2 separate regions of the Homo sapiens genome follow, and region 2 is linked to region 1. A link means that fine-mapping ties the variant in region 1 to the plasma level of a protein whose gene starts in the linked region. Region 1 holds a variant in brackets. A gene starts in the other region. All regions are shown on their forward strands.

Region 1 (9,220 bases):
GGAGTGTATATGTACCGGTGTGTTTGGGTGTGTAAGGAGGTAGGGGTGGGAGGAGCATGGAACATAGTTCTGGGCAGTTGCACAAGTAGAAGGAAATCCTAGTTCTACTTTTTGATGATTTAACATTTATTGAATGACACACATGTAGGGCAAAATTTGAGAGAGTTTGTACTCTAATGCAATGGCTGGATGAACTCTCAATCTTTGCCCTACATATGGTGGCTTAGTTTTTCCAAGAGCAAATCTACAGTCTCTACTCTGCC[T/C]ATGGGAATTAGATTGTCCTCTGATCAGTCGCAAAATAAACTTCTTTATCACTTTGTAAAAGAACTGTGTCTCCATTGCTATTTCTACCACCCACCCCTTGCCCCTGATTTGCAGCTGACCTTTATGAATGTATTTTCCGAACTCAGCCAGGGCTGTAGTATTGGACTTCTCAGAGCTAAAAGTCACTGTTGGAATCTGGATGGCACCTGTCAGAGTCAAATAGAGATGAAAGATTGAAAATGAATTAGTCATTGTTTTTTTCTACAGTCCTCTGTGCACAAAAAGTTCTTTTGCCTTCATTATCATATTGCAGAGGGCAAAACACTAATGTGAGGTAGGCGCTATTGTTTCCTCTAATTCGAAGATGAGGGAAAATGCTTGGAGAGGTTAGGTGAGCTGTCTGAGCAACAGGCAGACTATAGATTTAAACCTATGTCTTCTGGGTTTGTTTAGGCTGATATGGTTCTTAAAGGCAAATACAGTCTAAGATTGGAGGGAAGTGGATTTTTGGATCCTGGTCTTGAAGGGAAGCTACTATAAATTGCTTCCTAAGGCCTCACTACCTCTGAAATCACCAATTGCTTTGATGAATCCAAGCTTCATCATTCTCAAGGCACCCACTGTCCTGGGTCCCTACATCAATGAGGCTTGTGTGTTTTTGTATGTAAAGGCTTATTCCTTATGCAGAGTCTCACTAGTCTGTCAACCAAGACCAGCTTTTTGGGCATATAATGCCTGGGAAGGGGTGGATTTAGAAGCCTCCAAACAAACTCCTCAGTCCTAAAATAATCTCACCCTCCTTACTCAGTTGTCTCAGTTCCTGAACCTTCACTGGGCTCATCCCTTTGAGTCTTTAAGACTTTACAGTTTTAAAGAGTTCCATGATCAAAGACAAAACCACTGGGAGGGAAAGCATGAATCATGAGAATATTGAATTAGACTGCTCTCCAAGAACACAGTGCAAACAAATTCACCTGAGGCAGGAAGGGTCTCTGAAAGACAAACTTCATCAGTTTTGCTAAGGATCAACCCTACAATAGCATAGCCCACCAGATAGATGGGGAAGCCGAGGTTCAGAAAGATTCAAGTGCCTACTCAAGGGCAGACCCAAGGATCTGATCTCAGGTGTTCTGTCCCCTGCTCAGAGTTCCAAGCTGTGTTGCTATGAGGTCCCTATTCTAGCTTATGTAGCTTTTGTTCTCTTCTGTGCAGACTGTGAGTGGCTGTCTAATGCCTTTTAGAGAATTATTTATGCTTTGGGAAAGCCCTGCTCTGCCTCCCAGGCTTGTCACTCTAGCATATGAACAATCTATATCCAACTATTGGGGTTAGCTTTTGGTCCCTGCATCTGCTTCTATATGTTTATGCAGGCAGTCTCTCTTAATCCATTACTTAATGAAAGGGAAAAGACTGGAGCTAAGCTGAATGGTAAAGAAGGATTTCATCCCATAGGATCTAGCACTCAACAGAAACTTTCCTGTTTCCTGGAAAATGCAGATTCAGAACAGGGATGAATTTTTGGTCTGGATTAGAGATCTAGAGGAGACATGTTCTTCAATTATGATTGAGAATTAGGAACATCCCACACCCCGGGAACACTCCACTCCCTTTCTTTAGAGCCATCTGATCCCAGCGAGTCCGACAGGCACTAGATGCTGTCACCCACTGCCCACTCTTTGCTGTGGGGCCCTGGGGAAGATCATTTAGCTGACCTAAGCCTCAATTTCTCTCCTTTGTAGATAAGACTAATATCATTTGTCTTATTTTACGACACCGCAGTAATTTATCAGGCATGCAAACTTTCAAAGGTTAAAATTGATGTACAAATGAAAGCTGGTGTAATACTCGAGGCAAGCAGGGGAAAGAATGGACGGTGGTCACGCCAAGAGGGGTGAAGTTGGAGCTTCCAGGTTAGGCAGGGCACACCAGAGTTCCAGGAGCCAGGTATGGGGGAAGTGTGGCGTCCCCAGACAGGGGCACGATGTGCTGGGAAGGGTGTTGGGGCCGGGCTGGGGTGCGTGTCGGGGCTCCAGCTGCAGTAGCAGATGCTTTGCGGCGGAAGCGGGGAGTCACGGGTTGACCTGGGGAGGGAGGGACCCACATATGAGCATAGGTGGGTGAAGGGGACCCGGGTTCACCTTTCAGCGCCTCTTTCATCGCGACGCGTTCCTCTTTGCTGAACTGAGAAGGGATTCGCGACGCCCTTTGATGCTCCCCGCTCCTCGGGCCCATCGATCTGGAGACGGTAGGGAAAACTAGGAGCAGCATAGCCACCAGGGCCAGCACGCAAACGCACCGCTGAGCCATGCTTCTCTCGAGCTCCTGCTGTCAGGCTACCGGGGTAGTTCTGACCTAAACGCCCAGACTAGCGTTTCTTGGCCCTAGCTCTGCTCTTATTCCGGCAAACAGCCTTAGCCACACCCCATATCCAGATCTGACCAATCATCGCTTCGCTAGGACAGCGGAACAACCAATTGACAGAATGACCCCGCCCAGGATCCTTAAGGCCTTTCGAGGGTTGTGGGTTTTCGTGCTGAGGCCAGCAGTTCCTGCAGAGCAGAGGTGAGGTCGGGCTCCAGGCTAGAGTCATGTCTGGTCCGCACTTGATCTCTCACCCATAAATCCTTTCCTGTATGACAACAAATCAAATAAAGGAGGAAAAGCAAAATAAAATGCACGAAGCTTATCAGACCATACTCTGCTGCTCGTTTTTTCCGAAGCTTAGAACCTGACTACAATTCCCTAGATCCTGGGGCGGGGGAGCTCTCTAGGTTCCCAGCTTGATTTCATCTGAAATTGGAACAAATTGCTCTGTTTATAGATACTGCTTTGAAATACCAGCTCAGAGGGTTGGCTCCTGTTTAGAAATTTCATTGAAAGTGCTTTTAATATTAATGTTAACACTACATTTTTGCAACTCTAGACAAGTACAGTAAGACTGAAGGATTTTTAGAAAGATTACTATAAAATATTTAAGAGAATTTTGATGTATAAATAATTTTGATGTATTCCACAAGTGAAATTTTATGGTTATTCAGAGTAGAGGATCATTCTGGAAAAAAGAAAACCTGTCTTATGTCACAGAAATATAAAATCAGATTTCCTGAAGCCAGAATAAATCGTTCCTTTCAGATTTCTTGATGCAATTTTATCTGGCATCACTCTCAAATTTTAGAATTCTCAAGAAAAATTCAGTAAGTGCTATACAACCAGTAAGGCCATATTGCTACCTGTGACCAAAGCTACAGGTTCACAGTCCTGGTGTTTGCATTTCATTTAAGATTTGCTTAAAAAAAAAAATTCAGCCATGTAGTTACTTTTCTTTTCTTTTCTTTTTTTTTCTCTCTCGGTGCCCAGGCTGGAGTGCAATGGGGCGATCTCGGCTCACCGCAACCTCCGCCTCCCAGTTTCAAGCAATTCTCTGGCCTCAGCCTCCCAAGTAGCTGGGATTACAGGCATGCACCACCATGCCTGGCTAATTTTGTATTTTTAGTAGAGATGGGGTTTCTCCATGTTGGTCAGGCTGGTCTCGAACTCCCGACCTCAGGTGATCTGCCCACCTCGACCTCCCAAAGTGCTGGGATTACAGGCGTGAGCCACCACACCCTGCCTAGTTACTTTTTAATAGCAACTTTAAAACAGTATCATGAAATACTTCACATATTATAAAGATATAAAAAATAACATAATGAACATTTCTGGATTCACCACCTAGTTTAAGATTTAGAATGTTAAAAATAGAGTTGAAATTTAAACATGAACATTGACATAATTTTTAGTAAAAAGTAGCTTAATCTCTACCTAACTTTAAAATTTTTTTAAAAGAGACTTTTTATTTTATATATTTATTATTTTTTAAAATTATTATTATTTTTGTAGAGATAGGGTTTCACTATTTTGTCCAGGCTGCTCTTGAACTCCTGGACTCAAGCAACCCTCCCATTTAAGCCTCCCAAAGTGCTAGTATTACAGGAATGAGCCACCACACCCAGCACAATTTTTATGATTGTAAAATTCATGTATATTTATGCCCTTGTGAAATATTTGGAACATTAAGTATAAAGAAAAAAATCACATGCTATCCCAATATCCAGAGACGTTCACTCATCATATTTTGATGTTATCCAATCTTTTTTCTCTGCACACAAATACCCACAAATGAAGGATGTCCCTGTTTTAAAATGAAACAGATGCATATACTGCATCCAAAGTTCTATGTTCTGCTTTTTTTCCTTTAACATTATGTCATAAACACTTCCTGGTCCTTAAATATTCTTTAAATTATCTTATCACATAATATTTGATAATTAAGAGTACGTACAACGTGTATGTAAAGTAAATAATAACATGAACACCCGTGATTTGGAGTTTAGACCTAACTGGTCAAACTGCATTTTTTCTCCTGTCACTGCTCCAATTCTTGCAATCTGTCTAATTCCCACACTGTTCCCAGATCTAGCCAATCATGGAAAATTATCAGTAGCATTGAAGGTGCATGTGTTCTATTGCCTTTATTTTCCAACTCCCTGCCCAAGGTAATTGTATGACCGTGTTGTGTGTTTTAAATAGTTCTACAACATATGTATGATATACATATATGTATAGTGTGTGTGTGTGTGTATATCTTATAAAAATGACATCATGTTGTGTGTAGTCTTCTGCAATTTGCTCTTTTTACCCAACACTGTTTGTGGGATTTATGCATGCTGTTATATCTTGCTACAGTCTATTGACATTATTGTACATGTCTCCTGGGCCACAGGTAAAAGAGATTCTCTGGAATATATATCTAGGAGTGAAAATGCTGTGTTGTACTGTATGTTCTATTTTACAAGAGAAGGCTGAATTATTTTCCAAAGTGATTGGAACAATTTATACTAATCAGCAAGGTAGTGCATAGTATATAAGTTCCTGTTGCTTCACTTTCTCACTAGCTCTTGGCATTGGCATTTCCAATATCTTCATTTTGCCCATTTAGTGCCTGGAAAATATCTCCTTGTGGTATTATTTTGTACTCTCTAGTTTGTTAAAGAGTTTAAGCTTTATTTATTTATTTATTTATTTATTTATCATAGGGTCTTGCTCTGTCACCCAGGCTGGAGTTCAGTGGCACAAGTATAGCTCACTGCAGCCTCCAACTCCTGAGCTCAAAGAATCCTCTTGCCGCAGCCTTCTGAGTAGTTAAGATTGCAAGTGAACACCAACACCTTCAGCTAATTTTTAGAAGTTTTTTTATAGAGACAGTGTCTCTCTATGTTGCCCAGACTGGTCTTGAACTCCTGGCCTCAAATGATCCTCCTGCCTTGGTCTCCCAAAGTGCTGAGATGACAGGCTGAACCACCATGCCTGGCCTAAACATCTTTAAATATGCTTATTTGCCATTCATGTTTCTCTGGTAAAATGACTGTTCATATCTATTGCCCATTTTTGTTTAGAGCTGTCTTCTTATTGAATTTTAAGGGTTTCTATATATTGTGGAGTCTAAAATTTTGTCAGTTTTATTTAAATTATAAATATTTCTCTTCATTTGTGTCTTGTGTTTTTATTTTTTTAATGGCCTTTTGATGGGTTGAAGTCTTAATAATATAGTTGAATTTATTATTATATTCTTTTATAATTAGTGATGTTTTCTTGCTTAAAAAATCTTAACAAATCTAGTCCAAGGTCATAAATATATATATATATATGAATTTTTAGTAAAAAATAGCTTAATCTCTACCAAACTTTAAAAATTTTTAAAAAGATACTTTTTATTTTATGTATTTATTATTTTTAAATTTATTATTATTTTTGTAGAGATAGGGTCTCACTATTTTGCCCAGGCTGCTCTTGAACTCCTGGACTCAAGCTTTTTCCCTTATCTTCGAATTAGAGAAAACAATAGTGCCTACCTCATATTAGTGTTTTGCCCTCTGCAATACGATAATGAAGGCAAAAGAACTTTTTGTGCACAGAGGACTGTAGAAAAAAAAATGATTAATTCATGTTCAGTCTTTCATCTCTGACCATTTGACTCTGACAGGTGCCATCCAGATTCCAACAGTGACTTTTAGCTCTGAGAAGTCCAATACTACAGCCCTGGCTGAGTTCGGAAAATACATTCATAAAGGTCAGCTGCAAATCAGGGGCAAGGGGTGGGTGGTAGAAATAGCAATGGAGACACAGTTCTTTTACAAAGTGATAAAGAAGTTTATTTTGTGACTGATCAGAGGACAATCTAATTCCCATGGGCAGAGTAGAGACTGTAGATTTGCTCTTGGAAAAACTAAGCCACCATATGTAGGGCAACGATTGAGAGTTCATCCAGCCATTGCATTAGAGTATAAACTCTCTCAAACTTTGCCCTACATATGTGTCATTCAATAAATGTTAAATCATCAAAAAGTAGAACTAGGATTTCCTTCTACTTGTGCAACTGCCCAGAACTATGTTCCATGCTCCTCCCACCCCTACCTCCTTACACACCCAAACACACCGGTACATATACACTCCACGTACTCAGGCCTACCCCAGATTCATTACTAACACATTTCTAGGCCTCTAGGCAGTCAACAACTTTGAGCTATAACATCAGTCTTTTTCCCTCATCCCTACCACCCATTGAGTACAGAGCTGAGGAAGGATGGGTCAGAGGAAAAAAGGATTCTTGGAACTCCTCCCTCCCCTTATGAAAATCTCATGGAGAGTGATGAGATTACCTTCCTAAATCTAATTAAAAACAACCCCTCCAAAGTTGTCAGAGGTGGGAGAAGGTGGCCTAGGAGCAGCAAGCAGCCCCCTCTCTAACACCCTGGGACAAATGGCTCTGGGATTAGCCATGCATGGTGGCGAGCACCTGTAGTCCTAGTTACAGGAGGCTGAGGTGGGAGGGTTGCTGGATTCCAGGAATTCAAGGCTGCAGTAAGCTATGAATGTGCCACTGTGCTCAAGCGTAAGTGAGAGAGCAAGACCTTGTCTCTGGAAAAAAAAAAAAAAAAAAAAAAAAGAAAGGAAGGAAGGAAAAAACAAAAATGAGTGGCTCAGGGATTAATGCCCAGTAGCCAAGCTGAGGCCAGGCTGAAAAGGCTGGAAGTCTTTACTAAATAGGAGACAAACATAGGAAAGGAAATGTATAGTGACAGTAAACTAGATAAGCTAAGTGACAAGATAAAACCATATTCTTCTTCAGTTTTTGGGTATCCACAGAATTATATGTGAATTCTTCCAAAAAGCCCAGAGACAGATAAAATTTATTTCTCCTATGTAGCTAAGGTCACTTGAATAATTGACCCTGGGAACATCTACACCTGCATGCAGAAGCACCTTGTGCTAAACAGAATAATCTGTGTTCACATAACACATACACTAGATGTGTGGCTTTTTAAAAAGAAAAATGTCTCTGAACTTTTTAATATAATATTTAAATATAATTTGGTTAATGAGGCCTACTAATTTAATATAATAATTTAATATAATTTGGTTAATGAGGCCTCCTATGGTCAAAATTTAATGCATCCCTCATCTGCATAGCCCTTTAACACATACTTGTGATAGCATGTTATAGGTCTGACCAAGCCTGAGCTTGAGATATTGACCATCTTAGTAGTGAGTCTTTTTTTTTTGAGATTGAGTTTTGCTCTTTTCACCCACGCTGGAGTGCAATGAACTTAAACTATACCCTAGAACAAATGGACTTAACTGATATTTACAGACTATTCTACCTAACAATTCAGAATATACATTTTTTTCATCAGCACATGGAACATTCTCCAAGATAGACCATTTGATCGGCCACAAAACAAATCTCAATAAATTTAAGAAAATCAAAATTATATCAAGTACTCTCTCAGACTACAGTGGAATAAAATTGGAAATTAACTCTAAAAGGAACCCTCAAGACTATACAAATATGTGGAAATTAAATAATCTGCTCCTGAATGATCTTTGGATCAACAATGAAATAAAAATGGAAATTAAAAAATTCTTTGAACTGAATGATAATAGTGACAGAACATGTTAAAACCTCTGGGATACAGCAAAAGTGGTGCTAAGACGACATTTCATAGCATTAAATGCCTACATCAAAAAGTCTGAAAGAACACAAATAGAGAACCTAAGATCACACCTCAAGGAACTAGAGAAACAAGAACAAACCAAACCCAAAACCAGCAGAAGAAAATAAATAACAAAAGTCAGAGCAGAACTAAATGAAATTGAAACAAACAAACAAAAAACAATACAAAAGATAAATGAAGCAAAAAGATGGTTCTTTGAAAAGATAAAAAAAATTGATAGACCATTAGTGAGATTAACCAAGAACAGAGAGAAGATCCAAATAAGCTCAATTAGAAATGAAACAGAAGATATTACAACTGATACCATAGAAATACAAAAGATCATTTAAGGCTACTATGAACACCTTTATGCACACAAACTAGAAAATCTAGAGGAGATGGATAAATTCCTGGGAATATGCAACCCTACTAGATTAAATCAGGAAGAAATAGAAACTCTGAACAAACCAATAACAAGTAGTGAGATTGAAATGGTAATTAAAAAATTGCCAACAAAATAAAGCCCAGGATCAGATGGTTACACAGCTGAATTCTATCAGGCATTCAAAGAAGAATTGGTACCAATCTTACTGAAATTATTCCATAAGATAGAGAAAGAGGGAATCCTCCCTAAGTCATTCTATGAAGCCAGTATCACCCTAATAGCAAAACAAGAAAAGGACATAATAAAACAAGAAAACTACAGACCAATATCCCTGGTGAACATAGATGTGAAAATCCTCAACAAAATACTAGCTAACTGAACCCAACAGCATATCAAAAAGATAATACACCATGATCAAGTGGATTTCATGCCAGGAATGCATGGATGGTTTAACATACACAAGTCAATAAATGTAATACATCACATAAGCAGAATTAAGAACAGAAATTATATGATCATCTCAATGGATGCAGAAAAA
Region 2 (4,998 bases), not on the chromosome of region 1:
ATCCTCCCACCTCAGCCTCCCGAGTAGCCGGGACTACAGGCACATGCCACCACACCCCGCCAGTTTTTGTATTTTTTTGTAGAGTCAGGGTTCTGCCATGTTGCCCAGGCTGGTCTTGAACTCCTGGGTTCAAGTGATCTGCCAGCCTCGGCCTCCCAAAGTGCTAAGATTACAAGTGTGAGACACCACCCCCAGCCAGCACATTGTATTAATCCAAGCAGGAGAACGCAGACTTCAAAGGCTTATGGGCAGCAGAGAGAAGTAGATGAAGCAAAGAGATGCAATCAGCGGGACTAGTGGGAAATGAGGGAAAGGAAGGTGTCAGGATGGGGCTTTTTCTAGCTGAGTGGAGTTCAGTTCATTCCCAGAGAAGCTTGAGAGGTATCCAACTATAGATGCAAGGTAGCTGGCTGTTGGTCCCTTGTCTTTAGGACAGTTTGACTTTTGTAATACAGGCGACCTCACAGAGCTATTGTGAGAATTCAGAGCTGGGCACAGAATAGATGCTCTATAAACGGTAGTTCTATTCCCCATTTGCCCCGTCCTCCCAGCATGCCAGGGATACAGGGGCGGATAGAGACAGGTTCAGTTCCCTTTGGTCTCTTGCATTCCCCCTTCCCTCAGCACAATTCCTGGGCTCATAGCGGATGCTCAATAAGTATTTGTAGAATGAACCAAAGAAATCAGACCCTTGGTGACCCAGGGCTACATGTACTCGGCGGAAAACTGGGGTTAAACCGGACCCTTGGTTGGTTGAAAAATTAAAATAATTTTTAAAAAGTGGGCGTGAAATAATCCAGAAGTTGGAGGGCCTGGACAAAGGCTGGGGAGGGGACTCCTCCCACCAGGCGGCCTCAGGGTCGGCTTAGCAAGAAAGGAGGCGCTGGGGAGACCTCTGGGGTCCCAGCTGCCAAGGTACTCGCCGCTCCAAGGAGATGCGGACGCCGGATACCAGCTCTGCCCAAGATTGCTGGGTCCCGCCGCGGCCTTTAAAGGCCCACCACGTGGCTGCGCGGCCAGCCCTGGTCCGGAGGCGGTGCCCGGGTGGCGCCTGCGCACTGCCTAGCAGAGGGGCTGGGGTTCCGAGAAAAAGCGTCTGGAGAGGAAGGGGAGGCTGCTTGGGGTGGGACGCCGTGGGAGGAGTCGGCTCCTTATGCAAATCACAGCGGAGCGCGCACGGTCCGGAGGCGGGGCTTGCGATGCAAAGACAGGTCCGTCTGGCGAACAGCGAGGGGGCGGGCCGCAACCCTCTGCCTCTTTCCGCGAGCGCTGACGTCGCCGACGTGTTGTTTAAAAGCGGCCGCGCAGGCGCAGTGAGCCCAAATGCGAACTTAGGCTGTTACACAACTGCTGGGGTCTGTTCTCGCCGCCCGCCCGGCAGTCAGGCAGCGTCGCCGCCGTGGTAGCAGCCTCAGCCGTTTCTGGAGTCTCGGGCCCACAGTCACCGCCGCTTACCTGCGCCTCCTCGAGCCTCCGGAGTCCCCGTCCGCCCGCACAGGCCGGTTCGCCGTCTGCGTCTCCCCCACGCCGCCTCGCCTGCCGCCGCGCTCGTCCCTCCGGGCCGACATGAGTGGGGACCACCTCCACAACGATTCCCAGGTACGGCCCGGCCTGACCCTGGCGGCCCCGGACCCCGGCCTGGCCGTCCCGCGACCCCCGGCGCAGGCCCCGACCCCAGCCCCGGCCCGGCAGCTTTGACAGGCCGGAGCCCCCGGTGAGGGGCCGCCTGCCGGAGTAGATCGGCTCGCTAGGCCGCGAGCGAGGGCCGCGAAGTTACAGTTCGAGGCAGGGATGGCTGCCCTCTGTGGCCACCCCCGGGTCCCCGTCCTCCCCGGGGGCGCAGGGTGAGCCAGACCCCGGCCGCGCGCGCTCGCCGCCGGAGGGGTTAAAGTGGCTGTTGTTTGATATTCTCTCCTTTTCTTTTTCCAGATCGAAGCGGATTTCCGATTGAATGGTGAGTGTGCCCCCTGCGCCGACTCCGGGGCCCCCCAGCCGCCGGCCGCCTCCCCCGCGCCCTGCCGGTGCCGGGCAGAGGACAGACATGGCGTCCCAGAGACTAAGTCCCGGCTCCTCGCTCACCGGCCCCATTGTTCCCATCGGGCCGCCTCTTGACCCCCTTTCCGGGGACCCCAGCTCCTCCAGATCCCGGCCCTCCCAAGAGGGGACAACGGAGACCCCGTGTCGTCCGCCACCGGGCCTCGGGCGGTCTTTCCGGGCCGGGATTCCTCCCGGGAAAGTCGCCTTGTCGACGGTCGGGACTTAGTCTCTGCGCCATTTTCTTTTTCTCTCTCCTCTCCTTTCTGTGCCTGTGTCTCTTTCTCTCCCTCCCTCGGCTCTTTCCTTGAGCTGCCCAGAATGAGCTTTCTGCAGAGCAAAGCCGTATAAATCACATACTTCACCAGAGAGGGAAGGCTGGGGGACTGAATTATTATTTTTTAAACTTTATTTTGGGGGTTATTCCCTTTATGCTTCATGTTTGTTTCCTTTTCTGCTTCCAGAATGAAAGATTTCCTTAAGCAACTGTTAATTTTTTTTTTGATAGGCTGTTTATGATAGGAATTATGGCTCTAAAACTAAAGCCACGCTTTGTGGAGTTCTTTATATTTCCAGGTTGTTTTTCCCAAGTTACGTTCTTTGCAAAGGTAGCAGTACCTCCCTAAAGAAAGTTTGCAAGTTCTCTGTGGGTCACCCAATGTAAATGTTGGATTTTTAAAAAATTATGTTAGTCACTGGAACTTTTCATTGTGGTCGAGGTTCCCAATGCAGTGTTTTTCTGGAAACGCAGTTTAGTGTACTTGTTGGAAGGAAAGATTGTTGAGCATCTCTTGTGGACCTGGTGTGTTGGCCTTTTCGTTTGGGTTGTAAGGAGGAAAAAAAGATTTTATTTATTGAAGCAAAGAGTGTCCAGTACCCACCCCTGCTTCCTGTTCATTCTTTTTCACGAGCCACTGTTTTTCAGGAATCAAGAACTGGCTTTTTTTTTTTTTCCCAATTCTTTATGTTTTTGAACCCTTTTCAGCCAAATCAAGGCATTTATTCTTACTGTATTTCCACTTCAGTTACCCAGGGAAGAGTCCTCCAATAAAAAGCTCATCCTTGCAGGCTTTCGAACAACCCTGTTGAAGGAGAAGTTACCTTCTGTAGTGTGCTGGGAATTCCCACTGATTTTGATGGTACATAATCCTGCTCAATTGAGTTTGGGTTCCGGGAACCTCTCCAATGGGAGAAGTTGATGAGTAGGTTTTCTAATGTTGTAATCAGCAGTCCATCATGTTAGCCTGCTCTACTGAGAGCAACCTTATGTTCAGAGTTTGAAGTGGGGCATCCAGCAGGAGATGGTACTCAGCCAGGAGAGAATCTGGTTTAAAGTATGGCATTTCTTGAGCACCAGATATGTGCCAACCACTGTGCTTGGTGCTAGAGCTGATCCTGTAACCATAACACTCCCTTGCTCTCAATTCAGTCTATTGGGGGAGACATAATTAGTTAATTATAAGGTAACTACTGGGGCATATGTGTACCCAAAATGCTTTGAAGTATAGGGGAGTTAATTTTGTCTGAGGGTGGGGAAATTTCTCAGAGGAGGTGACTTCTGAGCTGGGGGTTGTGGAAGACTGGGCGCAGAGAATTGTCAGGGGTTGGAGTGTTTCTTAAGTACGTTTAACCAACCTATCACGATTTTAAAAGAGGGAGGAGGTGAGGCCTGCAGTTTAGAAAGCCACAGTATAGACATGTTTCTTTGGGATACAGGAGCAAAGAAAGGATGTGCAGGTGAGGATGTAAGAAGTCCTTTTGACCTTGCTAGAGGAAGGTGGGATCTTTAATATGGAATGTGTTCTTTTGGCTGTCAGGCTGGGCTGAGTAGGTAATGTAAGTAATGAAACAAAGTTTAGCCCTTTCTTGTGAGAAAGTTAACTTACATGGTTCTCACCTAAGTCACGTGAATGATTGTGAGCTGGCTAGGTTATTGATCTTTACTGACATTTTTATAGAGGCTGAAGTAATCTGCGTATGTTGACTTTTAGAATGTGTTGGCTCACATTTAATAGCAATAATAGCTAATATTTATTGAATACTTACTGCCAGGCATGAATCTCAGCTCTTTCCATGGATCATCTAATTAAATGTAATCCTTGGAAGGACCCTTGTGAGTTAGGTCCTGTTATTTCTGTTTTGTAGATGAGGAAACTGAGGCTTCAGTGTATTTACTAGCTTGCCCAAGGGCTGTGAGTTGGCCACTCTAAATCCCATGAGCTGAGCCACTATGCTAGAGTGATACTATATGATACTAGCATGAAAAAATAAAAAGCCACAAATCTCTATTTTCTTACAGAGCTGAAAAAGGAGAGAAGGAAGGATTTGATAATTTGTCATTTGCTTTTTATCTAAACATGCTTTTTGAAGAGAATCTGCCACCATAAAGTTCTGACATTGGTGTAATTATTCTTTGTGAATATTGTCTGGAAGATGTGGTGTTGGTAACTATGCTTGCTATCTCAAGTAATACATTGTTAACCAGTGATTGATTTATGTAACTATGAAAAAAACTTTAAAAAAAGTAGAAATCAATGTTTAATTATGCCCAGACATGTCATTATTGAACTTTGTATTAAGAGATTGTTTAAGCGTGATTTTAAGAGGGCCTAACCCATCTTACAGATTAACTGTACAAGTTCATATATTAAAATCAAACGTCTCTCATTTTGCCTGCCCTCATCCCCTAAGATATAAAAGATTCCCCCCCGTCCCCCCACTTTGGAGCTCATTCTTCGCAATATTTAAAATTGTAGCTCTTTGCATGTAATTTAGAACATTCTGACCCATACTCAACTGCTGGGAGACTCTGTTATTTATATTTAAAATGTTGACAGTGAGTTAGGAATTTGGAGCAGAAACCATATCTAAGTCTAAGTGAAAAGACTTCCTAAGTATTGGTAGAACTAACTGTAGTGGGGCTGAGTCATTATTACAGTACTGTACAGGCTGCGTAGCTATCTG

Direction of the effects. Alleles are on the strand shown, and positions count from the first base shown. The strength of an association depends on the size of the effect and on how common the allele is.
As copies of C replace T in region 1, the plasma level of the protein whose gene starts at base 1,321 in region 2 goes down (strong association).

What was found. PIP is the chance, under the fine-mapping model, that this variant and not a neighbour inherited with it causes the effect. Protein levels are from antibody-based Olink assays in UK Biobank. Linkage for the fine-mapping came from a reference panel and not from the study's own genotypes, which makes the PIPs less certain.
Region 2: TOP1 starts here. The variant in region 1 is fine-mapped to the plasma level of the TOP1 protein (UK Biobank, PIP above 0.99).

The regions. Positions count from the first base shown.
Region 1 is chr1:205,847,502-205,856,721 of GRCh38, forward strand. It overlaps PM20D1 (peptidase M20 domain containing 1), which reads right to left and starts at 2,631. Exons shown (of 13, transcript NM_152491.5): 1 at 2,403-2,631; 2 at 384-470. The coding sequence starts at 2,571. It overlaps LOC107985250 (a long non-coding RNA gene), which reads left to right and starts at 7,254. Exons shown (of 2, transcript XR_001738417.2): 1 at 7,254-9,220. RefSeq lists an enhancer at 2,560-2,854. The variant T/C (reference allele first, on the strand shown) is at 264.
Region 2 is chr20:41,027,502-41,032,499 of GRCh38, forward strand. TOP1 (DNA topoisomerase I) reads left to right here and starts at 1,321. Exons shown (of 21, transcript NM_003286.4): 1 at 1,321-1,599; 2 at 1,930-1,954. The coding sequence starts at 1,567. RefSeq lists silencers at 1,020-1,371, 1,592-1,661.